7 linked regions of the Homo sapiens genome follow. The protein of the gene in region 1 purifies or fractionates together with the protein of each later gene. This does not show direct contact. Each region holds a gene or a part of one and is shown in the gene's direction. Other genes may lie near its edges.

Region 1 (3,251 bases):
AAGTAGCTGGGATCACAGGCTCGCAACACCATGCCCAGCTAATTTTATTTTTCTGGAGAGACAGGGACTTCCTATGTTGCCCAGGCTGGTCTCAAATTCCTGGGCTCAAGGGATCCTCCTGCCTTGGCTTCCCAAAATGCTGGAATTACAGATGTGAGCCCTTGCCCCATGAAACGGTTTAACAAAGTAAGGTGGCCTGCTAGTTTAGAAGGCTTTTATGCTAACATTTCTGTTCCTTCCTTTCTTTCCCCAAAATTCTACACTGACCTTTTTTTTTTTTTTTTTTTTTTTTTGAGACGGAGTCTCACTCTGTCGCCCAGGCTGGAGTGCAGTGGCACAATCTCAGCTCACTGCAACCTCCACCTCTCGGGTTCAAGCGATTCTCCTGCCTCAACCTCCCGAGCAAGTGGGACTATAGGCGCATGCCCACCACACCCAGCTAATTTTTGTATTTTTAGTAGGGACAGGGTTTCACCATATTGGCCAGGCTGGTCACGAACTCCTGACCTCATGAGCCACCTGCCTTGGTCTCCCAAAGTGCTGGGATTAGAGGTGTGAACCCCCGTGCCCGGCCCACTAAAGCAGCAGTTTAGTGGCTTTAAAAAAAAATGATAGACTTTAAATGATGACTTTGTTTATAGAAGTTGTCATACATCTTCAAAACAGTATTCTCTGTGTTGTCATTTTGATTTTAAAGAGCATTCCTCATACAAAACCAGCCAACAGTGCAGGCACAGTGATTACCATGGCCGTTGAAAAGGCCAGAGATTTTACTGGTTCCCACCCCTGGAGCCTCTGGTTCTCTTAACTCATTTTGCAGAGGGCTCAAGTCTGCCAGCGTTGAAGTCTGAGTATCTTAATCATTTTTAGATCCTTCACCCCTTTGGCAGTCAGGTAAGGCTGTGGGGCGGGGGCAGGGGACACACATATATGCAGTTTTACCTTTGATTTCAAGGAGGTTAGACAACCCCCTCCCCACAGGCTATCCTGGGACCCCCGGTTAAACAGCCCTATTGTAGAAGGTGGGTGTTGCTGACCAGGGACTTGACTACAATAGTTCTGTTGGCGGCCCTGTTCCCTGGGGCTCTACAAGAATAGAAAACCCGTGTGGCCCTGGACTGGCCCCGCTCTCCCACGTGCTGCAGTCGGGGTGCAGAATGGAAGTTCACATTGCTGTGGCTGGTCCTCAGGAGCCGTGGGGAGGGCAGTCTGCGGGAGGCTGCGGCCCTTCCACTGGACTTTCACTCTGGCCTTCTTCCCTGTCCTCCTGACACCACTCCTCCCGCCTCCCCTCCCTCTCCCTCACCTCCCACAAACACACCAGAACTATTCAACTCTGAGGAACAGGAGTATGAGACAGCTTCCATTCGGCCAGGAATGGGAGGTTCCCATGTCCTTAAACTTCAAAGCCAATCGTACCCTTAAAAATGCAGCTATTTCCCCAGTTGTTTAAACACTTAGGATTAGATAGGAGTAGATGTATTGGTTTCTTCAGAGAAGCCAACAGTGGATCACATGAAAATGGAACCTTTTTTCCTATCCTTTTGAATACATTTCTGTGTTTAAAATATAATTTTTTTGGCTGGGTGTGGTGACCCACACCTGTAATCCCAGCACTTTGGGAAGCCAAGGCAGGTGGATCACTTGAGGTTAGGGGTTCGAGACCAGCCTGGCCAACATGGCAAAACCCCATCCAAAATACCCCTACTAAAAATACAAAAATGAGCCAGGTGTGGTGGTGGGTGCTTGTAATCCCAACTACTCAGGAGGCTGAGGGAGGAGAATTGCTTAAACCAGGAGGCAGAGGTTGCAGTGGGCCGAGATCGGGACACTGCACTCCAGCCTGGGCAACAAGCAAGACTCCGTCTCAAAATAAATAAATAAAATAAAATATAATCTTTTCCTTTGTGCTAGGGTCCCACCTAAGTTTATTCACACATATGATGAGCAGTAACTGCCTGAAGATGCAAGGAGTTGATTCCCACTCCCCACTTCCCCCGCTTAATACAGTGTTGTCAGTGCTTAACTGTCCTAGGCTGACCATGGTCCATGGGTTGTTTAGAGTCACTGCCTGCCTTTCTTACCTGCATTCAGCCTGCTGGTGGACTGCTGTTTCCTAACACCTCTGTACCAATGGGGACGATGTTGAAATTAACCATCAAAACTGTTTCTCTCGATGACAGAGGCAATGTCTTAGTGCCTTCTTTATCCCCAGCTACTAGCACAGAAGGAATCTGCCACACAGAAGATGCTCAATAAATACCAAGTTTAATTAAAGTAGGAGTGCACAGCTAGTGGGCTTGGGAGCCATTTAAACCTAGATACCTGGATTTGAATGCCGGCTCAGCTGTTTACTAGCTGTGAGGCTTTAAGCAAATCACTTAACTTCTGTGTCTTGTTTTCTTCACATGTAAAAGGGGATCCTTACTAAAATTATAGGTTAAGATAATGTATATAAACCACCTAGCATGATGCCTGCTGAATAGATCATTCTTGAATAAAGCTGTGTATTTTCCCTGTTTTATAAACTTAATAAGCTGTATCAAGGCAAATAAGAAGCTTGTCTCAAAAGTAAATACAGGCTGGGCATGGTGACTCCTGCCTGTAATCCCAACACTTTGGGAGGCCAAGGCAGGTGGATCACTTGAGGCTAGGAGTTCAAGACCAGCCTGGCCAACATGGTGAAACCCTGACTCTACTAAAAATACAAAAATTAGCTGGCTGTGGTGGTGCACACCTGTAATCCCAGCTACTAGGGAGGCTGAGGCAGGAGAATCACTTGAATCCGGGAGGCGGAGGTTGTAGTGAGCCAAGATTGTGCCACTGCGCTCCAGCCTGGGCCACAGAGCAAGACTCCATCTCAAAAAAAAAAAGAAAAAAAGTAAATACAGTATTCTGCTTTAGAACTAGGACCTATCTTCAGTTTTATTTTTTCCTCAAATATATAAAGCCGGGCATTTTCACTAATCCTGCATTTCTGCTTATTTTCAGGGACATATTTGGAGAAGACTGTGTAAGTGTAAAGGATGACTCTATTCTTAGCGTCACAGTGGACGGGAAAACTGCCAACCTTAACTTGGAGACACGGGTATGTAGCTGCTCTTTCCTACGTTTCAAGACATTTGGGAAATAAAGTGAAGGCATAAATAATCTGTGCTCTCACACTCAACAGTCTACTGTTGCATATTGGCATTTGCTTCCAGTGTTTCCAACATTTTTTTCACATTGTTCTTTTTATATTATTATGGTTG
Region 2 (4,277 bases), on another chromosome or scaffold:
TATTTATAGCTGTCTTATTCCAAAAGGCAGGTCTCTCCATTAATTTGGAATGTGTGACTAGTAGGTCAAAGCTTGCGTGAAGTTTACCTGGGAACTAACGACAGGTAAAGAACTTGGTAGTGTTGAAGGCTCTGGACTGGGAAAGAGGAGCCTGGGATTCCCATCCAGCTGTGCTGCTGATTGACTGAGTGGCTGGGTAACTCTGCGCATCACTGACCCCCAGCCTCCCCCTCTGTACAGTGAAGATTGTCCAGCCTGAACTGTATCACTCTCGGGGGCTGGCATGATGCAGACAGGGCCCTGTGATGGTACCCAACAATGAACTACAAACTAGGCCCTTTCTGAGCCCCGGTGGACCATACTCCAATAGAGGAGAGGTCAGATGGGTGTATAGGTGCTGAGAACTATTAACCCTGCACTCTCCCCTCTCAGAGATGCCCTAGTTCCAATTGGTCTCCTCCCCGTTTACTTGATTTTGCCTCCATAAAACTGTTGTGCCATAAATTGTAGTGTAATTCTAGGTTCGTACACCCCAAAAGAGTTTTCCATTACACTACCGCAGTGAGCCCAAATGTGATCAACTATCAGAATCACCTAGTAGCTTTTTTTTTTTTCCCAGAACCACCTCATATCCTCCCATCCCATCCTATCCTTTCCTATTCCCTCTCTATGCAGAGAATTGCTGTGGGGTAGGGGTAGGGGAGATTATTGTTACCCATGAGTAGATGATGCATTCCTCAGGTGTGTGGGCAGAGAGAAGGTTGAGAACTTTTGAACAGGAAACAGGGCCAGGTGCAGTGGCTCACGCCTGTAATCCCAGCACTTTGGGAGGCTGATAGGGTCAGATCACCTGAGGTCAGGAGTTCGAGACCAGCCTGGACAACATGGTGAAACCCATCTTTATTAAAAATGCAAAAATTAGCCGGGGATGGTGGCGTGCGCCTGTAATCCCAGCTACTCAGCAGGCTGAGACAGGAGAATTGCTTGAACCCGGGAGGTGGAGGTTGCAGTGAGCCGAGATCATGCCACTCCACTCCAGCCTGGGTGACAGCAAGACTCTGTCTCAAAAAAAAAAAAAAGAAAGCTGTACAAATAATGCTTTTGAATAATCCATTGTTATTTGTATTATTTCTTCTTTATTCAGGCACTTTGTGGGAATTTTGAACAAGACCTCTGGCCAAATGGAAGTATATGATGCTGAATTGTTCAACATGCAGCCACTATTTTCAGGTAGGTCCCAGTCATGAAAGCTGACAGAAATAATGCATAGTTTGGGTTTGCTGGATGAGTTGGCTTGAGTTTTAGATTTATAAAACACATTTTATAGTTATTTTAATTTATTTATTCTGTTTTTTCTGCTTTGTCTGTGTTGAGAAAATGGTTTTTTATATACACACTGTTTTTTGTTTTTTGTTTTTTTTGAGATGCAGTCCCACTCTGTCACCCAGGCTAGAGTGCAGTGGTGTGATATTGGCTCGCTGCAACTTCCACCTCCCGGGTTCAAGTGATTCTCCTACCTCAGCCTCCCGAGTAGCTGGGATTACAGGTGCACATCACCACACCCGGCTAATTTTTGTATTTTTAATAGAGACAGCGTTTTACCATGTTGGCCAGGCTGGTCTCAAACTCTTGACCTCAGGTGATCCACCTGCCTCGGCCTCCCAAAGTGCTAGGATTACAGGCGCTAGCCACTGCGCCCGGCCTAGAGTTTTTTATTCAGCACACACTTATTGATAACCTAATGTACCAGGCACCAAGCTGGGGCTGTGGATGTGGCAGTAAGCAAGACAGACACAGATCCTGTCCCCATAGTGTTTAGAGACTTGAGGTCAGAGGTTCATAAAAGCAATCTGAGCAATGATCAGAGCAGAATATTAGAGGACATGTCTGATATAAAATCTTTTCCATAAAAGAACTTCCTTCATTCTTTTTATTTTTATTTTTTATTTTTGTAAATTACTTTATTTCTTCCTTGATCATTTCAAGGGACTATCTTCAAACCAGTACAAATATTTCATACGTAATACCTGGCCATTTTCTAAACAATCGAGGAGTTTGTTGCACAATAAGCTACCTCACGTCTTTCAGCAAGAAATACATTAAATTTGAAGAGTAAAGACATTACATAATGAACTAGGACATAATTAAAATTTGCCTTAAATATTTCTTTGGGGGAGAGAACACCACACTTCTACTCAATGAAGAGAAACATTTTTACAGTCCAGAGGTCTTTCATTTTTTAAACACCTGTCACGCCATGAATTCATAGGGAATAGGTTCCAGCAGCTCAGGCTGCTTCCCATTGGTTCTCACCAAGTGTGCTTCTCTGGGTGGAGCAGGCTGGCGCTTCAGTTGAACCCAGGTACCTTTCTCTTTTGCTTCTGTCTTTTTCTAATCATCTTTCTTCACCCGTTTCATGAAGCTTTCTCGGCTCTTAGAGTGCTTAATGTGCTCAATACGCACACTAATTCTCTTGGCAAGAATCTTGCCCTTGTTTGTTTACAACAATGCCAGCAGCATGCTAAACTGTAGACGCTTCCAGTTTAGCCATGGTAACACTTGAGGGGCATTCCTTTTTGAACAGTACCCATTCCCTTGATGTCTACGATATCACCTTTCTTATAGATTCACATATATGTGGCCAAAGGAACAACTCCATGTTTTCTAAAAGGTCTAGAGAACATATATTGGGTGCCTCTCCTCTTTCCCTTTGTGTTTGTCATTTTGATGAATTACTGCAAGATGGCAGTTCTGGCCGAAAGGGTTCTTTCTTAATTCTTAACTGTTATAGTTGGGGTAAAGAGGTTTTAGAATTTCTGGTAGACAAAGGAAATTGCTTATTAAGTTGTATAGTAACTTTCACGTTGAGGACAAGTCTCTACACTAATTTGAGGAAGATCTATTTTTTTTCCCTAATCCAGTGGAAGAATTTACATTGTTTCTCTGCTTTGTCATCTTAGAATGCTCAGGGCTAGAGTGAGATCTTCCAAAATAATAAATAAAAGGGTCACACTCAAGGGGCTTCTGTTCCTTAAATCTCAGAACTTGAATCCTTAGTGATGCCCTTAAATACTGGGAACCATGGCAGGATAGGGCGATAGACAAGAAAGAAACATTGGGAGCATTGTGAATCTGCCTGATACCTCAGAGGCATTAGTTCCAGTTTTATTCTCTCAAAGCAGTGCTTCCATCCCTTTTGAGAATCTGCTAAGGACCTGGACCTACTTCTGAGAAACATATATGATACACAAATACATATATATGGGATTTTTTTTAATATGGGATTTTATACATAATTTTTTTTTTTTTTTGAGACCCAGTCTCGCTTTGTCACCCAGGCTGGAGTGTAGTGGTGCAATCTGGGCTCACAGAAGACTCTGCCTCCCGGGTTCTAGCGATTTTCCTGCCTCAGCCTCTTGAGTAGCTGGGGTTATAGGTGTGCGCTACCACACTCGGCTAATTTTTGTATTTTTAGTAGAGATGGGGTTTCACCATGTTGGCCAGGCTGGTCTCAAACTCGTGGCCTCAAGTGATTCACCCACCTTGGTCTCTCAAAGTGCTAGTATTACAGGTGTGAGCCACCGTGCCTAGCCAAATTTTACACGTAATTTTAAAGGTCTCTTGAGTCCGGACACCCATCTGTGAATTTCCTAGGTGTCCCCCTGCTTTGCAAACATATATAACTATATTTAAATCATCTTCCAACTGTTCTTGTAAAATCCAGGGAGGCAAGGAAAATTGTAATTTAACGTGTTGATTAAACATATTTTTGTTGTTATATGTAAGAAGTTTGTAAATATGAGTTTATTCTAGGTAGCACACACACAGAGATAACATTTAAGTCCTTACTATATGCTAGTCACTGTTCTAAGCACTTTCCATGCATATACCAACCTTCTGGAGTAAGTACTGTTGTTCTTTTTTTACCAGTGATGAAACTGGCACAGAGGTTAGATGACCTTATCAGGGGTGATGGCTGAGATAACAGGCAAGGCCACTCCAGAGCTTGTACTGTTGTGTACTAAGTTATACTGCCCTTATTTGAGTACTTTGTAGATGATTGGAGAGCATCGGTAAGTACCACATACCTCATGTTTATGCCTGCTTTTAGGTCTTTCACCAAGAAAGCAAAATTATTTTCTGGAAAGAGCCAAGGACTTGTTTTCTAATCCTGTCTCTGCCACTACCTGGTGAACTGACCTGGGGCAAGTAATTTCATCTGTGGGCCTTCTGTTTTTTAATTTCTAAAATGAAGAGGTTGGGCTGGATGACCGCTT
Region 3 (4,277 bases), on another chromosome or scaffold:
AACTTAGGTTAACATTGTCCTTCCATGTGATCATGATCCCCAGCTTTCCTCTGAGAACAGAAAATACACTCTCACTTTCCTCCACAGAAACAAGAGGCTTTCACATCATTTATTTCTCAGCTCTGGAGAATCTAAAATTATCAGCTGGTTCTTACAGCAGCCCTGAAAAGTAGATATTTGAAATGATTTAGCTTTTTGTTTTGCCTCCCTAACTTTCTTGTACTTTCTTCTTGATTAGGCCTTGGCACTGGTGCCCCTGTCATTGAGTCACCTTATGGAGAGACCATCAGTCCTGAGGATGCCCCTGAGTCCATTAGCAAAGCAGTTGCCAGCCTTCCACCAGAGCAGATGTTTGAGCTGATGAAACAAATGAAGGTGGGAGGAGGCATTAGGTTATGAATAAAGCAAATCACATCAGGTTTTCAAGGAGTTACTTGAATTAGTTCCCTGAGCTCAAATAGAAATTGTCTGTAGACCACCATTTCTTGCACCTTCAATATTCTGTATGTACACAGTATATTTTACATTTTGTACAAAGAGCTTTCTATTTTTGTACACAAACACAGCTATCCAAACAATCCAGCTGGAGTTTTGTGGCCCATAGATGTCAGATGTAGATATTAAAATTTGGCTTTTTTCCTAAATGATAATATCACAGTATTTGAAATGCCTCTTTCTTCTCTTGCCTGCCATGACCAAGGTTTTTTTGTGCCATGCAAAAACTAATGATAAAGAGCCTCTTGAATATTACATTTCTCAGAGGGGAATGGCTCTAAATCACTATCAGTTTCTAAGTCATAAGTATTAAACCTGAATCTGCTTATCTTCTCAGCTCTGTGTCCAGAATAGTCCCCAGGAGGCACGGAACATGTTACTTCAGAACCCTCAACTGGCTTATGCTTTGCTGCAAGCACAGGTAGTGATGAGAATTGTGGATCCGGAAATTGCCCTGGTGAGTGCTTCTGGTTCTTTTATGGAAATGGTCGGGTAAACCTTGAATGGGATAGGAACTACCTGATTGCTTTGTTAAACAGACAGCTCATAGGTTTGTCTTTTCACTTTTTAGAAAATTCTGCATCGCCAGACAAATATCCCAACGCTGATTGCAGGCAACCCTCAGCCAGTCCATGGTGCTGGGCCTGGCTCAGGATCCAATGTGTCAATGAACCAGCAGAATCCTCAGGCCCCTCAGGCCCAGTCTTTGGTAGGGCTTTATCCCTTAACATTTTTTTGTATCTGTCTTAGAATGTCATTTTCTTTTTAGGAGAATATATTGAAAGAAGAATGGTCAGGAACCAGAGATGATAATTTCAATTTCCAGGCATAAAAGCAATTTCCAGGTTGCAGAGCACATGACATCTGAATGAATATAGATTCGATTCCAAGTTTGTAAAACAAAGAGATCCTTCCCGTATGCCCTTTTCTTATAAGCTAACTTTGTGTGTATGTGCATGCCTGGCACTGTGGTTGGCACTTCGTTATTCCATATGCATTATCTCATTTAATCCTCAAAGCAATTGTATGAGGTTGGCACTCTTATTATCTCCATTCTTACTGATGAAAAAAGTAAAGCTTGCTTTCAAAGCATGACACAAAACCTTAAAGCCATAAAAAATTGATACATTTGAAAACTAAAAAATTTCTATATAAAGAAAAAAATAAGTATCAAAGACATGACAAATTGAGAAAAAGTATTTACCACACATGTGATGGAAAACAGACTAATAAAGAGCCCATAGTCATTCACAAGAATGTTTATTGCCTTAGAGTGAAAAATTGGAAATGTCCTAAATGTACGTCAGTGGAAGAATGGAGAAAATGTGTGGTACATTCATCCAGTGAAATACTGTACAACAGTTAAATAAACTACACGTATCAACATGAATGACTTTGAAAAACATAATTCCATACAGCAGTTAAGATGAACTAGGATACATAATATCAACACAACTCCAAAACAGTGACATACGGACATGAAACTAAGTGAATATGGATGCATTCCCGAAATGTAGGATATATGTTTCTGCATAAATCCCCAAAATATGTGGAATGAGTTGCAAAATAATATATTGAGTATGTAATGATTCATATAAAATTTTGAAACATTAAGAAGACGTCTTAGTGGTCATCAAAGGAGAAGAGAGCACAGGATGCAATTGGGGAAGACCGTACAGGCCATTGGTTTATTTTATTTACTTATTTATTTCCTAAGCTGGGTGGCTATTTTATTTTCTATATGATTTGTATATCTGTAATTTTTCATAATAAATTTTAAAAGGCCTCCTATAAATTAGTAAGAAAATTTCCAATAACCCAGTAGAAAAATGGGAAATAGACATAAATATTTCACAAAAGGAGAAATATAAATATATAAAAATTTATTCAACTTCAAAATAAGATAATGTAATAAATTATCATTTATATATGTAATGTTATAAGATAATGTAAATAGAAACTACAATAAGCTACCATTTTTCATCTCTCAGGTTGGCAGAGGTACAGGGCAGGGACCAGCAAACATTTTTCTGTAAATGATCAGACAGTAAATATTTTTGGCTTTGCAAGTCACAGGATCTGCCACAGCTACTCTGCCATGGTAGTATGAAATCAGCCATAGGCAATAAGTGAACAAGTGTGTGTGGTTGTGTTCCGTTAAAAGTTTGTTTATAAAACCAGGCAGTGAGCCCGATTTGGCCCATGGGTCATAGTTTGCCAACCCCTGCTCTAAATAAATAAATACATTTTCAGAGATAGAAAAAAAAAGCTAAGGCCCAGAGAGGTTAGCTGGTCCAAAAATTGACACAATTATAAGTGGCAGATCTATTTCTGAACCTGGTTTTATCTGACCTCACAGCCAGTTTTCTCTTAACTACTTTCCTATACAGCTCTTCCTTTTCTTTTGTAGAGTTTTGTGTTCCTTAAACGTATATGTGATTTTTTTTATATAACTTGGCTTTTATTCTTTATTTATTGAGCTGTTTCTAATTCAAGGGACTACTCAGTTTTTTGGGGAATGCACAGATGAAAAGATGACATTCTCTTTTTCTCAACGAGTTTTAATGTAGCATTTAAAAAAATATATTTCACATTCCCCCAAAACCAGAATTATATCTAAGGACAGGAGTGAGAAAAGATTGGTTAAATTAAAAAAAAAATTTAATTTTAAAAATGTGGACTACCAGCAGTTGTTTTTTTTAAAAGAGTCCCAGTCTCCTTTTATGTTTCTTGGGTTTAGGGCTTTTTTTTTTTTTTTTTTTTACTCTTATTGGCAGCCCCAATCATGAAGTTAACAGTAGGTGTTATGTGCTGCCTTGCCACACAGATAAGACTTGTCAATCTCTACATTGAGAATATGTTCCATCTTAACCGTGTTCCATATAACCAGGCTCATGACGTATATTGCTTCTGTGGAGTTTAAAGTGTGTGACAAATCTAATGCTGCATAAGACATGCCATACAAAAAGGATGTTTAGTAGTGTATTTGGGGCTGTTCATTTGAAGAGGACTTTTAAGGTCGTAGACTTAGTATATTGAGTATCCACAGAGGCATATACATACTCTGTTTTTTTTGCTTGGTCAGGGTGGAATGCATGTCAATGGCGCACCTCCTCTGATGCAAGCTTCTATGCAGGGTGGAGTTCCAGCACCAGGGCAAATGCCAGCTGCTGTCACAGGACCTGGCCCTGGTTCCTTAGCTCCTGGAGGTAAGTTTCATTTAGTCTTCACCATTTCAGTACTTGCTAAAGTTTTGTCATAGCCACTGTTGCAGTGCAGCCAAATATGATAATGGGATCCTTAGGTAAAATTAATACACAGCTAGAAAGTATATATCTTAGGTGGAGGAAATAGTAGATTTCTTACGTTAAATCCTGTATGTCTAATTATAAGAACAGGGAAAGGGACAGTAAAGTGAAAGAGCATAGTAAAACTTCCAAGTTAACAAGGGGGAAAATGGAATGAGTGGAAACAAAATCAAGCCAGCAAAAATAGAGAAGAGGAAAAAAGTAAGAGACAGTGTAAAATAAGTAATAATAAATGTAGAGTAAGATGGAAGGAATAAAAACTAATGTAGTTGTTACTCTGCTAAATATGAATGAACTGTCAGATTAGGTTCAAAAGCTCATGAAGAAAACAGACAAAAAAATACAAGGTCACATTTGTTATAGCATATTAAACTGACATAAAATTGTATTTTAACAAACATAATCAGAACAAACAACAAAAGGGAAAAAGAGAAATTTAAAAGCTATGTACATTTATTGAAAATGTATAGATCG
Region 4 (4,277 bases), on another chromosome or scaffold:
GAAGTCTTGCTATATTACCCTGGCTGGTCTCGAACTCCTGGGCTTAAGTGATCCTCCCGCCTTGGCCTCCCAAGGTGCTGGTACTACAGGCATGAGCCACCAGGCCTGGCCAAACAAATATGTTTTTAACTGACAAACGTGTAGTTGGGCTCACACCTGTAATACCAGCACTTTGGGAGGCTGAGGCCGAAGGATCCCTTGAGCCCAGGAGTTCAAGACTAGCCTGGGCAACAAATTGAGACCTTGTCTCTAATAAAAATTTTAAGAATTAGTTGGGGCCGGGCATGGTGGCTCATGCTTGTTATCCCAGCACTTTGGGCACTCAGGGCGGATCACCTGAGGTCAGGAGTTTGAGACCAGCCTGGCCAACATGGTGAAACCCCGCCTCTACTAAAAATACAAAAATTAGCCAGGCGTGGTGTGGCACGCGCCTGTAATCCCAACTACTCAGGAGGCTGAGGCAGGAGAATCACTTGAACCTGGGAGGTGGAGGTTGTAGTGAGCCAAGATCATGCCATTGCACTCCAGCCTGGGCGACAGAGCAAGACTCCATCTCAAAAAAAAAAAAAAAAAATTAGTCAGGTGTGGTGGCATGCGCCTATAGTCCCAGCTACTTGGGAGGCCTAGGCAGGAGGATCGCTTGAGCCTGGGAAGTCAAGGCTGCAGTGTGCCGTGATTGTGCCACTGCCCTCCATCTTGCGTGAGAGGGTGAGACCCTGTCTCAACAACAACAACAACAAAACAAACCTGACAAACATGCTAAGCTAGTTCACATTTCTTGTATCTAACAAGGGTTTTTTACCCTGATCTTTTCATGGCCCTCTTTCCCATCATTCAAGTCTCAGCTTAAATGTCAACTAAAACTTCTTCCCTGAGCCATCTATCTCTTGTTATACCCCTACCCATCATATCACTGTTTTATTTTCTTCATTAGCATTCATTACTATTTAAAATCCTTTCCGCTACACTAGAATTTAAGCTTTATGAAGTAGGAGACTTTGTTTTCTTTTTTTTTTTGTTTTTTGTTTTGTTTTGTTTTTGAGACGGAGTCTCACTCTGTCACCCAGGCTGGAGTGCAGTGGCATGATCTCGGCTCACTGCAAGCTCTGCCTCCCGGGTTCACGCCATTCTCCTGCCTCAGCCTCCCGAGTAGGTGGGACTACAGGCGCCCACCACCACGCCCGGCTAATTTTTTTGTATTTTTAGTGGAGACGGGGTTTCACCCTGTTAGCCAGGATGGTCTTGATCTCCTGACCTCTTGATCTGCCCGCCTCAGCCTCCCAAAGTGCTGGGATTATAGGCGTGAGCCACCACGCCCAGCATGAGACTTTGTTTTCTTTACTGCTTTGTCTCCGTTACCTACAACAATTTCTGGCACCTTGTAGGTGCTCGGTGAATATTTGTTGAAAGAATGAATGAAATCCAGGATGCTGTACAGAGAAAATAGCCTTCCTTTGGGATTGTTTTCTTAGGGCTGTAAGTGTTTTTTTTATTTTTTATTTTTTGGTGTGTGACAGGGTTTTGCCCTGTCACCCAGACTGGGGTGCAGTGGCACAATCTCGGCTTACTGCAGCCTCTGCCTCCCGGGCTCAAGCAGTCCTTCCACCTCAGCCTCCTGGGTAGCGTGTACCACCATGCGTGGCTAATTTTTTATATTTTTAGTAGAGATGGGTTTTTGCCATATTGCCCAGGTTGGTCTCGAACTCCTGGACAAGCGATCCACCCACCTCAGCCTCCCAAAGTGCTGAGATTACAGGCATGAGCCACCACACCCAGTCAAGACATAGGTATTTCTTTCTTTTTTTTTTTTTTTGAAACGGATCACGCTCTGCTGCCAGGCTGGAGTGCAGTGGTATGATCTTGGCTCACTGCAACCTCCGCCTCCTGGGTTCAAGTGATTCTCCTGCGTCAGCCTCCTGAGTAGCTGGGACTACAGGCACGTGCCACCATGCCTGGCTAATTTTTGTATTTTTAGTAGAGATGGGGTTTCACCGTGTTGGCCAGGATGGTCTCAATCTCCTGACCTCATGATCTGCCCGCTTTGGCCTCCAAAAGTGCTAGGATTACACGGTGAGCCACCATGCCCAGCCCAAGACATAGGTATTTCTGTGTGATAGCCATGATGTACTGATACAGAACAATCAGTCATTTCTCAGGTGATTGTGAGATAAAATGGGTTGTCCTCACCTTTTGAAAGTGCTTCTTGTTCATTTTTCTTTTCTCATCTTTATACAATCTTTCTTAAGGATATATGGCAGGGAATGGCATGAGAAAGGGGCTTGTAAGCTAAAGCTTAAGGAACCATTCGAGCTGAACCATTTGGGGATAAAATAAGTTGCGAGAAATGTATCCCAAGTCTTTGGGATGATGATGAGGTGGTTGCAGATTCAGGCTTGCTGCAGTTTTAGCTCCTGGCTGAACTAGAGTTCATAGCCCAAAGAAGAGTTGACAGTGTGGGAGTGGTGTTCGGTGTCTCCCAGGTAGGAGGGAGACAGAAAAAATTCCTGCTGAAACCTTTCACAAAACTGGGTTATGCAGATGACCAAGGTTGTGAAAATCTGAATAGGGAATGTCAATCAGGACTTCTGCAACCTCTAGTTTTGGGTATTTAAAATATATATCTTTGAAATAATTATAGTTTCACAGGAAGTTAAAAAATGTGTATAGAGGTTCTGTGTACCCTTCACCAAGTTCTTCCCATTGCATAATTAGAGGTACATTTCTTTTAATCTGAGTAAAAGTGTGTTTCTCCACTTAAATTCAGGTTTTCCTTGTGGTGCTAATTATAACGTAATCCAGATCTCAAAGTTAAACTTTTTTCTCCATTGAGCTTTCTTTATGAGCTCAAGAAAATTTATCTCTCTCAGACGTATGAGTGCTAACTGATCCTAGTGGGTTGGCAGACCTAATAAACTTCAAAGTAAGCAATATAGGATGTTTCTAGAAATAGTTGGTACACTGTTCATACACTAACACTTCTTTTAATACTCTTTTGTAGTCTAATTACAAAAACATGGTATATTCACTGTACATATTTAGAAATGAATATATAAAAAGGAATCGACCAGGCACTGTGGCTCACGCCTGTAATCTCAGCCTTTTAGAGGCTGAGGCAGGAGGATTGCTTGAGGTCAGGAATTTAAGACCAGCCTGGGCAGCATAGTGAGACCCTGTCTATAAAAAAAATAAATTAGCTAGGCAAGGCAGGAGGATGGCTTGAGCCCAGGAAGTTGAAGCTGCAGTGACCTATGATTGCACCACTGCACTCCAGCCTGGGTGACAGAGTGAGACTCTGAAAGGAATTACAGGGAGACAATATAGTGAGTAACGATGGCCTGTGGAGCCAGACTGCCTGCAACTCTGCCACTACCTGTCTGCCCTCAGACAAGTTCCTTTATATACCTGAGCTCCACCGTTCTCATCTGTACGGTAGACATACTAATATATCCACCTCATAGGGTTGTTTTGAGGGTAATTGAATTATATATAAGCAGTTTAGAGCAGTGCCTAGTACATTGTAAGTACTCTTCCTACTCATTACAGATGGCAGGAGAGCTGGCTGACAAAAAGGACCGTGATGCATCACCTTCCAAGGAGGAAAGGAAGCGATCACGGACTCCTGACAGAGAGCGGGATAGAGACCGGGACCGGAAGTCTTCCCCATCTAAAGATAGAAAGCGGCATCGTTCAAGGGATAGACGTCGAGGAGGCAGCCGTTCTCGCTCTCGTTCCCGTTCCAAATCTGCAGAAAGGTAAAGTAACTTTGTATGTTATTACATGGGAAGGGAGAGTACGTTTCAGATTTCTTCCTTCTTGGTTCTTCTGATGCCTCCAGTATTAGGCATCTACTTTTTATTTTTATTTTTTGAGACAGAGTCTCGCTCTGTTTGTTACCCAGACTGGAGTGCAGTGGTGCGATCTCAGCTCACTGCAAGCTCCGCCTCGCAGGTTCACGCCATTCTCCTGCCTCTGCCTCCTGAGTGCGTAGCTGGGACTACAGGCGCCCGACACCATGCCCGGCTAATGTTTTTGTATTTTTAGTAGAGATGAGGTTTCACCGTGTTAGCCAGGATGGTCTCGATCTCCTGACGTGATCTGCCTGCTTCAGCCTCCCCAAGTGCTGAGATTATAGGCGTGAGCCACCGCGCCTGGCCTTTTTTTTTTTTTTTTTAAAAGATGGAGTTTCACTCTTGTTTCCCAGGCTGGAGTGCAATGGCACGATCTCGGCTCACTGCAACCTCTGCCTCCCAGGTTCAAGCAATTCTCCTGCCTCAGCC
Region 5 (4,277 bases), on another chromosome or scaffold:
CTATTCGAAGTGTCAAGGACACTTAACACTGCTTTTCTGGGTGTATTTGTTTTTTGTTGTTTGTTTGCTTGCTTGCTTTTGGTTTGGGGGTTGATGATGTCATTTAACTTGTCCCTTCATCTGTATTTCCTGAAAACTTTACAGTTAGGTCTATACTCAGCCTTGATATTTGGGTTAAGTATTTTTGGATAGAATACTTAACATTATATCATTACATTAGCAGGTACTTCTGCTGGGTTCTGTTAGGATGGTTAAGTTTGATCACTTGGTTTAGGGTGATCTCATTGTTAAGGGTCATGTTCCCCTTTGCAGTTAATAATCTGTGAGTTGATAACCGTTTTCTTTAAAATCACCTTATACCTAGTTATCAATTGATAAATCTTGACTAAATCAGCTCTTACATTGGAAGTAGCAAATGGTGGTTTTGTTTTGTTTTTAAAACCCACAATTCTGTTGGTCTGTGTCTGTTTACTGGCTCATACTTTCTGCAAAAAAGACTTTTTTTCTTCCTAAAGATTAAGTATCGCTATGGATTCATGGATTTCTCTTAGTGTGTTAGTATCAGTGATAGCCATTTTTCTTTTGCACACTCAACTTGTCCAAACCTTTTTGGTGGTTCTTATATCTTTTCCTTAAGTCTGAAAGGCAATTTAGACATCTGATTATCAACAAGGAAGTCATCTTCATATAGCCTTTTCTTTAACTTTTTAATAATACATTTCAAACATGTAAGAAAAACAGTATAATATATGAAGTACCTGTCATAGAGCTTCAATTTATGGCTAATCTTGTTTCCTCCATGACTTCATTTGCTTCTCTCACCCCCATTACTTCGAAGCAAATCCTAGATACTGTATTCAGCTTCAACTAAAATAACCATTAAATAACACCTTAAGGATGGAAAATATGAATGAGCTGTACCTTGCTTGATATTTAAGACAATATTGAAAATCTGGAGGAAAAGAGAGTATCCAAAATAACCTGAAATCATGGATGAGAAAAATAAACTCAATGAGACTAAAGAATAATAAGAAAAAAATTAAAACCATTGAATCATGGATTTGCTTTGGAAAAATGCCAAGGGATGGGGTGGACAAAGAGTCCTACAAGATGCAGGTGTAGATTTAGCCTTTTAGTAGCATTGAAGTTCAAGTTTGTAGAATAAACCTGATACTATCTTAAATTTATTACTAAAATATATGGATAGTCATTTTTCTCTTGGTGCTAAGATTTGTGATTTGTGCCCCCTAACAGAGGGAAATTATTGCAGACAAGCAAAATCACTGCTAAAGGTTTATTGCTGTGATTTTTTTTTCAACTCTAGTAGGGAAGTTCAATTTTGCATGTAGAGAGCTATTGGAATTACCTTATAGTGTTCAAGGATCTCTTCTGAAGCTCCTTGCTTATTGTTTTTGCCAGTTTAATGGTGAAAAAACTATTTGCATATAGGTTTACCCCCCTAACAAACATATGATTTCTGTGTGGAATTATGGCTGTATTATTTATTTCATGGTTTTGTTTTTTTGTGTTTGTTTTTTGTTTTTTTGAGATGGAGTCTTGCTCTGTTGCCCAGGCTGGAGTGCAGTGGCACGGTCTCGGCTCACTGCAACCTCCGCCTCCCAGGTTCAAGCAATTCTCCTGCCTCAGCCTCTTGAGTAGCTGGGATTACAAGCACACGCCACAATGCCCGGCTAATTTTTTTGTATTTTTAGTAGAAATGGTGTTTCACCATGTTGACCAGGCTGGTCTTGAACTCCTGACCTCAAGTGATCTGCCTGCCTCAGCCTCCCAAAGTGCTGGGATTACAGGCGTGAGCCACTGCGCCCAGCCTGTGGTGTTTGTTTTTTTTAATGCCTGATTCAACTTTTGATCTCATTCTTAGGTCTATTTAACCTTGTGCACTACTCTTAAGGCATTTAATATGCTGTTATTTAGACATTTTCCATTGGGTTTTGAACTTCTTTAGTTGAAGAGATGATGTTATTCATCTTTATGTCTTAAAGACCTAAGAAATAATATTTTGATGCTTAAAGGTATTCAGTAAATGAATGGATTAAGTTTGCATCTTTTAAAAAAAATTATTTATTTACTATTTAGGTAGAGACGAGGTCTCACTGTGTTTCCCAGGCTGGTCTTGAACTCCTGGACTTAAGTGATCCTCCTGCCTCAGCCTTCCAAACTGTTGGATTACAGGTGTGAGTCCAGCCATATTTCACCTTTTAAATAATGTATAACTTATCCTAGAATTTGGAAGGCCTAAAATACAAGCCAAATGATCCTCAGCTTGGAAAAGCTACATGATTCTAAGAAGCGCAAATTAATTGCTGGTAGTTCTTAACAAAGGAGCATTTAGGCTCATAAATACGTGTTTTTAGTGAAAAATAATTTTGGGAAGATTTAGAAAATAATGAAGAGTATGTGTCCTATTATATACTTATTATTAATAAGGAAAGAAAAAGTTGAAACACCCACAGCATTGAAACCTGAAACCTGGTTTATTTCGTTAGGTAAACATTAGTACTTAAGCTGTTTAGAAGTAACAGTATCGCCAATTTTAGTCAAGGTGCATATATGTGTAGGGGTTAGAAGAGGCAGAGAAAGAGCCAACTATGTGTGTTGGACAATGTGTTTTTTTGGATTTATTTTTTCCAAAATCTTTCTGTAACAGCCCTTCCTAGTTTTCTGCCTCCTATTTTTAGTGATGCTTGTTTGGTGTAACAGTTTTGGGCAGGCAAATTGATTTGATCTTTATTGTTGATATTTCTTAGGAAACTGGAGCATTATCAAATATTCTGTTTGGGGACAGTTGTTCCTAAGAGAAGTTGCTCTGTGCTTAAAGAATGAGAATTGGGTTTTTCTTAGAGATACAGCAGAAAGGTACTGTGTTAGGTGATACTGCATTCCTTCAACATTATTTCAGGGAATGTAGGCATTTACATCCCAGATAGACCTTCAGAAGGGCAAAATCTGTATTTGGGTGTTTTTACCTATTGGACAATTACCCATACCAATTCATGATTTTAAGCTTTTTTTTTTAAATCTTCGATTTGGTGACGGTGATTTTAAGCTTTTCTACCATGTCTCTGAATCTTTCTCTTTAGATAGGACCTACCTGTGAATTTGAGTCTTTTTGTTTTGTTTTGTTGGACAGTTGGTAATGGTGTGAGAATTGGGCTAAAAAAGGGATTTGAGTTGGCAGTTGTTTAAACTATCTTTAGATTAATGGACAACTTAGGATACATAGTAAATATTGAATAAAATCAGAAGGGCAAAGCTTCTGTGTGTCCTAATTAATGTTTTTCTAATGTTTGACTTAGTTTATTTAGTGTATTAAATCTGGATTATTCATATTTGAAAGAAGTCTCATCTTTTAAGTTCCAAACGGTTAAGATTTTAATTTATATTTTGTAGCTATTTGTTTCCTAGGGGATGAATATGCAAGTTTACTAAGCAGATAATGGTAAATATAATTATTTGAACTAATATGTTAAGCCAAGATCTTTTTTTTTTTTTTAATTTTTTTATTTTTATTTTTTCGAGACAGAGTCTTGCACTTTCGCCCAGGCTGGAGCACAGTGGCGCAATCACGGCTCGCTGCAAGCTCCGCTTCCTGGGTTCACGCTATTCTCCTACCTCAGCCTCCCTAGTAGCGGGGACTATAGGTGCCCGCCACCACGCCCTCACGCCCAGCTAATTTTTTATATTTTTAATAGAGATGGGGTTTCACTGTGTTAGCCAGGATGGTCTTGATCTCCTGACCTCATGATCCGCCCGCCTTGGCCTTCCAAAGCGCTGGGATTACAGGTGTGAGCCACCATGCCCGGCCCAAGATCTTTTTTTTTTTAAGTTTTTGAGTTGTTTGTATGTTTAGATTTTTAATCTATGGATGATTTGGAGGGATTAGTTTTGTATTGTAGGATACATGTTCAGTTTCATTCACAACAAACATGAAGTAGGGTTTGGTTGCATTGGTAAAGGAACACAGAACTAAGCTGACATCTGGTCCTAATATCCGGTCTCATTGTGACACCTGTCACATATAGTTCTTTATTATCTGGGCATATGAATGGAATCAGTTAGGTTACTCCTCTATGAAAGTCTCAGCACGGCACCGTGGCTCACGCCTGTCTGTAATCCCAGCACTTCGGGAGGCTGAGGCTGGCGGATCACTTGGTCAGGAGTTTGAGACCAGCCTGGCTAGTATGGTGAAACTCCGTCTCTACTAAAAATACAAAAATTAGCTGAGTGTGGTGGTGCATACCTGTAATCCCAGCTAC
Region 6 (4,277 bases), on another chromosome or scaffold:
CTTGAATGCATTTTTATATTTTTAGTAAGGACAGGGTTTCCCCATATAGGCCGGGCTGGTCTCGAACTCTTGGCCTCAAGTGATCCACCAACCTCGGCCTCCTACAGTGCTGAGATTATAGTCATGAGCCATTAAGCCCAGCCCTATCTTTACAATTTGTTAAATACATTTATTTCTCTATCTCCACATCCTTAATTCAAGCTACCATTACCCACTACCTGAACTAATTTCAGTAGTTCCTCCGGACTCCTTACTCTTGCCATACAAATCCATTATCTGCACTGCAGCCCAAGCATCCTTTGAAAAATGCAGTCTTGATTCTTTAAAAAAATCAGTCAAAAATGACCCTGTCATTCATTTATGCAAACACCCTTCAATGGCTTAATTTTACTTAGTGGTCATTCATATTCTTACTCCTGGTTATCTCTATAGTTGTATCTTTTTTTTTTTTTTTTTTGACAGGGAGTCTCTGTTGTCACCCAGGCTGGAGTGCAATGGTGCAATCTTGGCTTACTGCAACCTCCGCCTCTCGGGTCCAAGCAATTCTACTGACTCAGTAGCTGGGATTACAGGCACATGCCACCATGCCCAGCTAATTTTTGTATTTTTAGTAGAGACGGGGTTTCACTATGTTGGCCAGGCTGGTCTTGGGCTCCCGACCTCAGGTGATCTGCCTACCTCAGCCTCCCAAAGTGCTGGGATTATATAGGTGTGAGCCACCACACCTGGCCTATAGTTGTATCTTGAATGCTTCCCCCCTTCACACTCTCACACCAGCCATTATGAAATTTTTTTGTTCTCCTTCAGGCCTCTACATATGCCAAGTTGCCTCTGCCACAATCATTCTTCCTAAATTTTAGCCTGTCCCCTTTATGTTCTTTAGGACTTAGCTGGAGTGCCTTTACTGATGTAAGCTGGACTAGGTACTCATCCTTTGTAATTTCATAGTACTTTATTCCCCCAGTTCCCATCGCATTATCAAGCTATGTAAGAAAAAAAAGCAATGTGCTGCTCACTAGTGTCTAGCAAAAAACTTGATATTTAGTAGGCACTGGGTAGTTGAATGAATGAACAGGAGCCTGCATAGTCCAAGGAATTATTTGCCTGTGGCATTAAGCAACCAACCTTCCTGGATCCTAGTCCATGCTGTGGGATTTGGTTATCTTTTCCTGCCCCATTCCCACCCATTGATTCTTTTAAGTATCCCAGTTGGGTCACTGTCACTCTCCATAGTTTTTAGGTGCTCCCTATTGCGTCTAGGTTAAACCATCCCTTTGCCTTTCCATAATGTGGCCTCCAGTGCCCTGCCCTCTAGAGCTGTTTCCTGAGCCTCATGTAGCCAAACAAGCAAGCGTCTCATTCATGCCTTGCACTCTCCTAGCTGTGATTTTTTTTTTTTTTTTGAGACAGTCTTGCTTTTTCACCTAAGCCGGAGTGCAGTGGCGTGATCTCAGCTCACTGCAACCTCCGTCTCCTGGGTTCAAGTGATTCTCCTGCCTCAGCCTCCCGAGTAGCTGGGACTACAGGCATGTGCCACCCAGCCCAGCTAATTTCTGTATTTTTAGTAGAGACAGGGTTTCACCATGTTGGCCAGGCTGGTCTGGAACTCCTGGCCTCAAGTGATCTGCCCACCTTGGCCTCCCAAAGTGCTGGGATTACAGGCGTGAGCCACCGCTCCCGGCTAGCTGGGACTCTTGACTATGTCTTCTCCCTCTATCCAAAACTTCCTTCCTTCAAGGCCAGTTTCTTCAGAAAACTACTCAGAACCCAGAAATCCAGAGAACTGCTACTGTCTGTGCCTGTCATTCAGCTAGTAGCCACATGCTGCCTCACCATATTGTATCTTCTCAATTTTGTGACTCTGCCCTGACTGGTGCTTCTTGTGGGCATAACCCAAAACAGCAGACCTCAGTTTGCTGGTTACCTAAGGAAAAAGCAAGACATGGATGAGTAGTTAAGACAAATGGGTTTAAATAAGCTGAGCCAAAGCCCAAGAGATTTGCTAGTAACCAAAAGTATTTGGAGTTGTATTTGAATATATTACCCCTGCTGACACTCCCACATGGTTCTGACTTAATCTCTTTCTTGCCATAGGCCTGGGCTCTAACATCTTCCGCCTGCTAGACAGCCTGCGGGCCCTGTCAGGCCAGGCTGGATGTCGCCTCCGTGCCCTGCATCTCAGTGACCTGTTCTCACCACTGCCCATCCTGGAGCTGACACGTGCTATCGTGCGAGCACTGCCCCTGCTACGGGTCCTCTCTATTCGTGTTGACCACCCAAGCCAGCGGGACAACCCTGGTGTGCCAGGGAATGCAGGGCCCCCTAGCCACATAATAGGCGATGAGGAGATACCAGGTGAAGCACTGTGTGTGTGTTTGTGTGTGTGCACGCACGTGTATCCCCACACAAAGGTGCAGATGCATTCGTATGGGGAAAGGGGAAGGACCTCTTCTATCACTCATTCCTGGCTTATCTGGAACCTATCCCCCCTTTAGAGCCTACCACTAAGATACTCTTGAGCTAGACAGGGCCTAAACCACCATAAGACCAGCAGAGAGTGACCAAGGCAGCTTGGTCTCCAGAAAAGGAAAAGAACTGATCTTTAGACTGGATTAGTTCCCCTGCTGTATGTTCCCTTAGTTCTTGTATGTCTCCTATCCCACCACTCTGCATACTTTATTTGCTTGTGTCTGGGTAGCCTGTCTTCCTGGTCTAAAATTTCTACAAGGGCAAGGACTAAATCTCATATTTAGTGCTCAATTCCTAGAATCTAGCACAGTGCTGACATATGGTAGGCACTCAACGACAAGTGAATGAATAAATAATTTTTTAGATGAATCCCTTAAGAACAGGATGGGACCTGCTATGGGAGTGAGGTAGAGATGGCCAGCTGGAATCTTCTTTCCCCACCATATCCAGAAAACTGCCTGGAGCAGTTGGAGATGGGATTTCCACGGGGAGCCCAGCCAGCCCCACTGCTGTGCTCCGTTCTGAAGGCCTCGGGTTCTCTGCAGCAGCTGTCCCTGGATAGTGCCACCTTTGCCTCTCCCCAGGATTTTGGGCTTGTTTTGCAAACACTCAAAGGTAGGACCCAGCCAGAATGGTGAAGGGAGAGGAGTAGGTGGGGACCTAGCACTGTTCTCTAGGAAAGCTAAGGTCCATGGTCCATGGTCTCTGCCTCCTATCCAGAGTACAACCTAGCCCTGAAAAGACTGAGCTTCCATGACATGAATCTCGCTGACTGTCAGAGCGAGGTGCTCTTTTTGCTACAGAATCTGACTCTGCAAGGTAAGTTCCTTATTCAGAACCTGGACATTTCCTGGGTCTTCACTATGGTTCTGCCATAATCTGAGTGAGCAAACCACTGTTCCTTTCTTGGCCTTGTGTCCTCAGCTATAAAATGGATATAGAACCTGCATGATTTTCCTTCTAAAAGCCCCAACCTCAATTCCTCCTCTACTAAACATGAGAAATCGCTCTTTTAGAGTGCTTCACCCAAAAGTTGCTCTTACCTTTCAGAGGTGGACAAAATGGTGGTGGTGGGGCAAAATAAATGTACTGTGCCAGGCTCCCCTCATAGACTTTTCTCTGATCCCCACCCCCGCATAGAGGGTGGCCAGTGTTAGGGAAAGAAGGAAGTGAATGGAGAATTGTCCATGCAGAGAACCTTCTTATAGGGAACATTTAGGTTCAGTCTTTAGTTTGGATTCTGATTTAGTTCCAGCCTTGCTTGGAGTCTAGACAAATTCCTTCCTCTTTTTGGGCCTCTATAATGTTAATACCCCTTGCTAGGGCCAACTGGGGCAGGAGGGGCAGCACCAGTCCTAATGCAGCCATCAGAATTTACTATAATTTTTCTTGACAGAGATTACCTTCTCCTTCTGCCGTCTGTTTGAGAAGCGCCCAGCCCAATTTCTGCCTGAGATGGTTGCTGCTATGAAGGGCAACTCCACACTGAAGGGCCTCCGGCTGCCAGGGAACCGCCTGGGTGGGGGCCAGACCCTGGGGAGGGAGAGGGGAAAGGAGCTAGGCCTTTGACCTAAAAACTCACTGGATAAAGGCAAAGACCTCTCCACTGGGAACGTGGGAGTTGGAATACAGATATTTCTGTGCTGGGGCTTCAGGAACCAGCAGGGCTGGTTCTGCCAGCCATAGTTGGGTTGGGATACCCTTGTCCCCTGTTCTTGGGTGGAGGTGATAGGCGTTCTCCCCTTCTCTCCAGGGAATGCTGGCCTGCTGGCCTTGGCAGATGTTTTCTCAGAGGATTCATCCTCCTC
Region 7 (4,277 bases), on another chromosome or scaffold:
GGGGTGCCGCAGGGCACCCAGGATGGCTGGCCTGGGCTGTGGCATCCAGAGGGCAGTTGAAGGTTCCTGGGGCTTTGGAGAGGTGACCCCGTGGGGCCAGCCAGCCTGCATTCTCTTTTGGCACCTGCAGTTGTTAACTGTGTTTCCTTGGGCAGGTCCCCTCTTCTCTCTGTCAGTTTGCTCTACTGTAAAATGGGGGCATTGGTGGCTGTGCACGTTCAGAGCTCCTTGTGAGCCCCTGACATATAGAAACCATCACTCTATGGCCAGGCGTGGTAACTCATGCATGTAACCCCAGCACTTTGGGAGGCCAAGGCAGGCGGATCACTTGAGTCCAGGAGTTCAAGACCAATCTGAATCACATGGTGAAACCCCATCTATAAAAAATAGCCAGACATGGTGGCATGTGCCTTTAGTCCCAGCTACTTGGGAGGGTGAGGTGAGAGGATTGCTTAAGCCCAGGAGGTAGAGGTTATAGTTAGCAGAGATCTCCAGCCTGGGCAACAGAATGAGACCTCATCTAAAAAAACTAATTAAAAAAAAAAAAAGGAGGGGGAGGCTGGGCACAGTGGCTCATGCCTGTAATCCCAGCACTTCAGGAGGCCAAGGTGGGAGGATTGCTTGAGCCCAGGAGTTCGAGGCCAGCCTGGACAACATGGTGAAACCCGCCTCTACAAAAAATACAAAAATTAGCTGGGCGTGGTGGTGCACACCCAGCTACTCGTGAAGCTGTGGTGGGAGGATCACTTGAACCTCAGTGGCGGAGGCTGCAGTGAGCCGAGATCGCACCACATCACTCCAGCCTGGGCAAGAAAGTGAGACCCTGTCTCAAAAAAAAAAAAAAAAAAGGCTGGGCGCACTGGCTCACACTTGTAATCCCAGCATTCTGGAAGGCCGAAGCAGGTGGATAACTTGAGGCCAAGAGTTCGAGACCAGCCTGGGCAACACAGCGAAACCCTGCGTCTACTAAAAATACAAAAATTAGCTGGGCGTGGTGGCGCACTCCTATAATCCCAGCTACTCGGGAGGCTGAGGCACAAAAATCTCTTGAACCCGGGAGGCAGAGGTTGCAATGAGCTGAGATCACACCACAGCACTCCAGCCCAGGCGACAGAGCAAGACTGTGTCTCAAAAAAAAAAAAAAAATGAAAAGAAACCATCAGTCTACTTGCCTGGCACTTTGGCTGAGGGCCCAGTGAGCCAGGGGTGTTGTGCAGGGCACAGGGCACAGCCCAGGGAAAGTTTTCCTTCCCTCTAATACTCTTGCTCTCTCCTGTAGCCTGTACTGCGAGAAGCGGATCCTGGAGGCTGTGGGCTGCACAGGGCACCCTTTCCTGCTCTCCCTCCTTGCCTGCTTCCAGACCTCCAGCCATGCCTGCTTTGTGACTGAGTTTGTGCCTGGTGGTGACCTCATGATGCAGATCCACGAGGATGTCTTCCCCGAGCCCCAGGCCCGGTGGGTTCCATCCCTCCTGCCTGCCTCTTCCAGCAAACTTTGCCTGGTTCCCTACACCCACTCTCTACATACTGCTTTCTCCAAGTGCCCAACAGCAGGGGAGCAGGAGTCAGAGGCCTTGGTTTACATCCTGGCACCAACTGACAGCATTTGTGATCCTGGGTATCAGCTTATGAAGCTGTGCATTAGGTTTCTTTTTTTTTTTTTTTTTTTTTTTTTTGTGAGACAGAGTCTGGCTCTTATTGCCCAGGCTGGAGTGCAATGGCATGATCTCGGCTCACCACAACCTCCGCCTCCCTGGTTCAAGCCATTCTCCTGCCTCAGCCTCCTGAGTAGCTGGGATTACAGGCATGCACCACCACTCCTGTCTAATTTTGTATTTTTAGTAGAGACGAGGTTTCTCCATGTTGGTCAGGTTGGTCTCTAACTCCTGACCTCAAGTGATCCGCCCACCTCGGCCTTCCAAAGTGCTGAGATTACAGGCGTGAGCCACCACACCTGGTGAGTCTCAGATCTTTATTTGAAAAATAGGCATGATTGGCCGGGCACCTGTAATCCCAGCACTTTGGAGGCTGAGGCGGGTGGATCACCTGAGGTCAGGAGTTCGTGACCTGGCCAACATGGTAAAATCTTGTCTCTACTAAAAATACAAAAATTAGCTAGGCATGGTGGCACACGCCTGTAATCCTAGCTACTTGAGAGGCTAAGGCAGGAGAATCGCTTGAACCCAGGAGGCGGAGGTTGGAGTGAGCCGAGATCCCGCCACTTCGGTCTGGCGACAGAGTGAGACTCCATCTAAAAAAAAAAAAAAAAAGGCCGGGCACGTTGGTTCATGCCTGTAATCCCCACACTTTGGGAGGCTGAGGCGTGTGGATCATGAGGTCAAGAGATCAAGACCATCCTGGCCAACATGGTGAAACCCTATCTCTATAAAAACTAAAAAAAAAAAAAAAAAAAAAAAATTAGCTGGGCGTGGTGGCGCGTGCCTGTAGTCTCAGCTACTTGGGAGGCTGAGGCAGGAGAATTGCTTGAACCCAGGAGGTGGAGGTTGCAGTGAGCCGAGATCGCACCGCTGCACTGCAGCCTGGGTGACAGAGTGAGACTCCGTCTCAAAAAAAAAAAAAATAGGCATGATGAATATCCACTGCAGGGACCAACACTTGGTCCCTGGCACCATTTAAGGGCCCATGAAGGGTGAGCTGGAAATGCACGCAACCTTGGGGCGACCTTGGGACTATTGGAGCACCCCCACCCTCAGCATGATGCTTGTCCCAGTCTCACTCATCTCTGACTCTGGCCGGGACATCCGGGATCCCCCCGCTATGGCCATCCTGGTGCCTCCCTGCCCTGCCTCCCTGGTGTGTGTCTTGGGCCTGAGTTCTCCCATAACCACCCCTGCAGCTTCTACGTGGCTTGTGTTGTCCTGGGGCTGCAGTTCTTACACGAGAAGAAGATCATTTACAGGTGACTTTTGTCCCAGGGATGCACGGGGGTAGGGGTGGGGGTGGGGGTGGAGTGGGTAAGGACAGATGCTGCCTCCGCCTGCCTGGGCTGCTCCAGGGGCCGTTACTGTTCCCTGGGTCTAAGCCCCACTCAGTCCCTTTGATCTGCACCCTTGCCCTCAGGGACCTGAAGTTGGATAACCTTCTGCTGGATGCCCAGGGATTCCTGAAGATCGCAGACTTTGGACTCTGCAAGGAAGGTGGGGGCCGCCCATTGGGATCCATATCTCCAGCCTTGTTTACCCACCCTGGCCAATAGGATGATGGGCACATGGCATGTCCCAGGAAATCTCCTCACCTGCGGATGCCCTGGTTCCACCACCCCAGACCTCATTCCAGGGGACAGCTGGGCACACTGGCCCTTTCTTCCTAGTCCTAGAGGCTCGTAGCCCCAGCCTGCACCTGGCCCAAGGGAGAGCCTGTGGTCAGGGATGGGAGAGGAGACTGAGTTCTGCCTTCTGTTTTTTTTTTGGTTTGTTTTTTTTTTTGAGACGGAGTCTTGCTGTGCCGCCCAGGATGCAATGCAGTGGTGCAGTCTCGGCTCACTGCAGCCTCCACCTACTGGGTTCAAGCGATTCTCTTGCCTCAGCAGCCCAAGTAGCTGGGACTACAAGCGAGCACCACCACACCTGGCTAATTTTTGTATTTTTTTAGTAGAGACGGGGTTTCACTGTGTTAGCGAGGATGGTCTCGATCTCCTGACCTCATGATCCACCCACCTTGGCCGCCCAAAGTGCTGGGATTACAGGCGTGAGCCACTGCGCCCGGCTTCTTTTTTTTTTGAGATGGAGTCTTGCCCTGTTGCCCAGGCTGGAGTGCAATGGCGCAATCTCGGCTCACTGCAACCTCTGCCTCCAAGGTTCAAGAGATTCTCCTGCCTCAGCCTCCCGAGTACCTGCGATTACAGGCACATGCCACCACACCCAGCTTATTTTTTGTATTTTTAGTAGAGACGGGGTTTCACCATGTTGGCCAGGCTGGTCTCGAACTCCTGACCTCATGATCTGCCCACCTCGGCCTCCCAAAGTGCTGGGATTACAGGTGTGAGCCACCGCACCCAGCCGAGTTCTGCCTTCTGTGACCTTAGCCTGTGAGCTTGGCTCTGCATGCAGTCAAATGGCGTCATAACCATTCCCACTTCCTTGGGTACAGGGCAGGGCTTGGCACAGGCTCAGCTCCCTGGCATCATAAGGCTTGGCTATTGAAGTTATTGTGAATAGGCCACACCAAGCAGCTATTGGTGTGCCTGTTGGTTTGCAGGGATCGGCTTCGGGGACCGGACTAGCACCTTCTGTGGCACCCCGGAGTTCCTGGCTCCC

What was found.
Region 2: the proteins of CPSF3 (region 1) and POLR1E fractionate together in Homo sapiens (co-fractionation; one large-scale study listed by BioGRID). This does not show direct contact.
Region 3: the proteins of CPSF3 (region 1) and CSTF2 purify together in Homo sapiens (affinity purification with mass spectrometry; 3 studies listed by BioGRID and IntAct, with this or other methods). This does not show direct contact.
Region 4: the proteins of CPSF3 (region 1) and DDX23 fractionate together in Homo sapiens (co-fractionation; one large-scale study listed by BioGRID). This does not show direct contact.
Region 5: the proteins of CPSF3 (region 1) and CSTF3 purify together in Homo sapiens (affinity purification with mass spectrometry; one large-scale study listed by BioGRID and IntAct). This does not show direct contact.
Region 6: the proteins of CPSF3 (region 1) and LRRC41 purify together in Homo sapiens (affinity purification with mass spectrometry; one large-scale study listed by BioGRID and IntAct). This does not show direct contact.
Region 7: the proteins of CPSF3 (region 1) and PKN3 purify together in Homo sapiens (affinity purification with mass spectrometry; one large-scale study listed by BioGRID and IntAct). This does not show direct contact.

The regions. Positions count from the first base shown.
Region 1 is NC_000002.12:9,468,352-9,471,602, forward strand, and holds part of CPSF3 (cleavage and polyadenylation specificity factor subunit 3), read left to right. Parts: intron 1-2,991; coding exon 2,992-3,088; intron 3,089-3,251. UniProt on the Homo sapiens protein: Component of the cleavage and polyadenylation specificity factor (CPSF) complex that plays a key role in pre-mRNA 3'-end formation, recognizing the AAUAAA signal sequence and interacting with poly(A) polymerase and other factors to bring about cleavage and poly(A) addition.
Region 2 is NC_000009.12:37,488,171-37,492,447, forward strand, and holds part of POLR1E (DNA-directed RNA polymerase I subunit RPA49), read left to right. Parts: intron 1-1,144; coding exon 1,145-1,230; intron 1,231-4,111; coding exon of another isoform or gene 4,112-4,205; intron 4,206-4,277. UniProt on the Homo sapiens protein: Component of RNA polymerase I (Pol I), a DNA-dependent RNA polymerase which synthesizes ribosomal RNA precursors using the four ribonucleoside triphosphates as substrates.
Region 3 is NC_000023.11:100,823,054-100,827,330, forward strand, and holds part of CSTF2 (cleavage stimulation factor subunit 2), read left to right. Parts: intron 1-238; coding exon 239-375; intron 376-832; coding exon 833-952; intron 953-1,066; coding exon 1,067-1,204; intron 1,205-3,580; coding exon 3,581-3,704; intron 3,705-4,277. UniProt on the Homo sapiens protein: One of the multiple factors required for polyadenylation and 3'-end cleavage of mammalian pre-mRNAs. This subunit is directly involved in the binding to pre-mRNAs.
Region 4 is NC_000012.12:48,845,049-48,849,325, reverse strand, and holds part of DDX23 (probable ATP-dependent RNA helicase DDX23), read left to right. Parts: intron 1-3,543; coding exon 3,544-3,752; intron 3,753-4,277. UniProt on the Homo sapiens protein: Involved in pre-mRNA splicing and its phosphorylated form (by SRPK2) is required for spliceosomal B complex formation.
Region 5 is NC_000011.10:33,154,624-33,158,900, reverse strand, and holds part of CSTF3 (cleavage stimulation factor subunit 3), read left to right. Parts: intron 1-4,277. UniProt on the Homo sapiens protein: One of the multiple factors required for polyadenylation and 3'-end cleavage of mammalian pre-mRNAs.
Region 6 is NC_000001.11:46,279,203-46,283,479, reverse strand, and holds part of LRRC41 (leucine-rich repeat-containing protein 41), read left to right. Parts: intron 1-2,094; coding exon 2,095-2,355; intron 2,356-2,919; coding exon 2,920-3,084; intron 3,085-3,189; coding exon 3,190-3,288; intron 3,289-3,865; coding exon 3,866-3,988; coding exon of another isoform or gene 3,989-4,038; exon of another isoform or gene 4,039-4,216; intron 4,217-4,222; coding exon 4,223-4,277. UniProt on the Homo sapiens protein: Probable substrate recognition component of an ECS (Elongin BC-CUL2/5-SOCS-box protein) E3 ubiquitin ligase complex which mediates the ubiquitination and subsequent proteasomal degradation of target proteins.
Region 7 is NC_000009.12:128,715,468-128,719,744, forward strand, and holds part of PKN3 (serine/threonine-protein kinase N3), read left to right. Parts: intron 1-1,279; coding exon 1,280-1,456; intron 1,457-2,857; coding exon 2,858-2,920; intron 2,921-3,081; coding exon 3,082-3,158; intron 3,159-4,218; coding exon 4,219-4,277.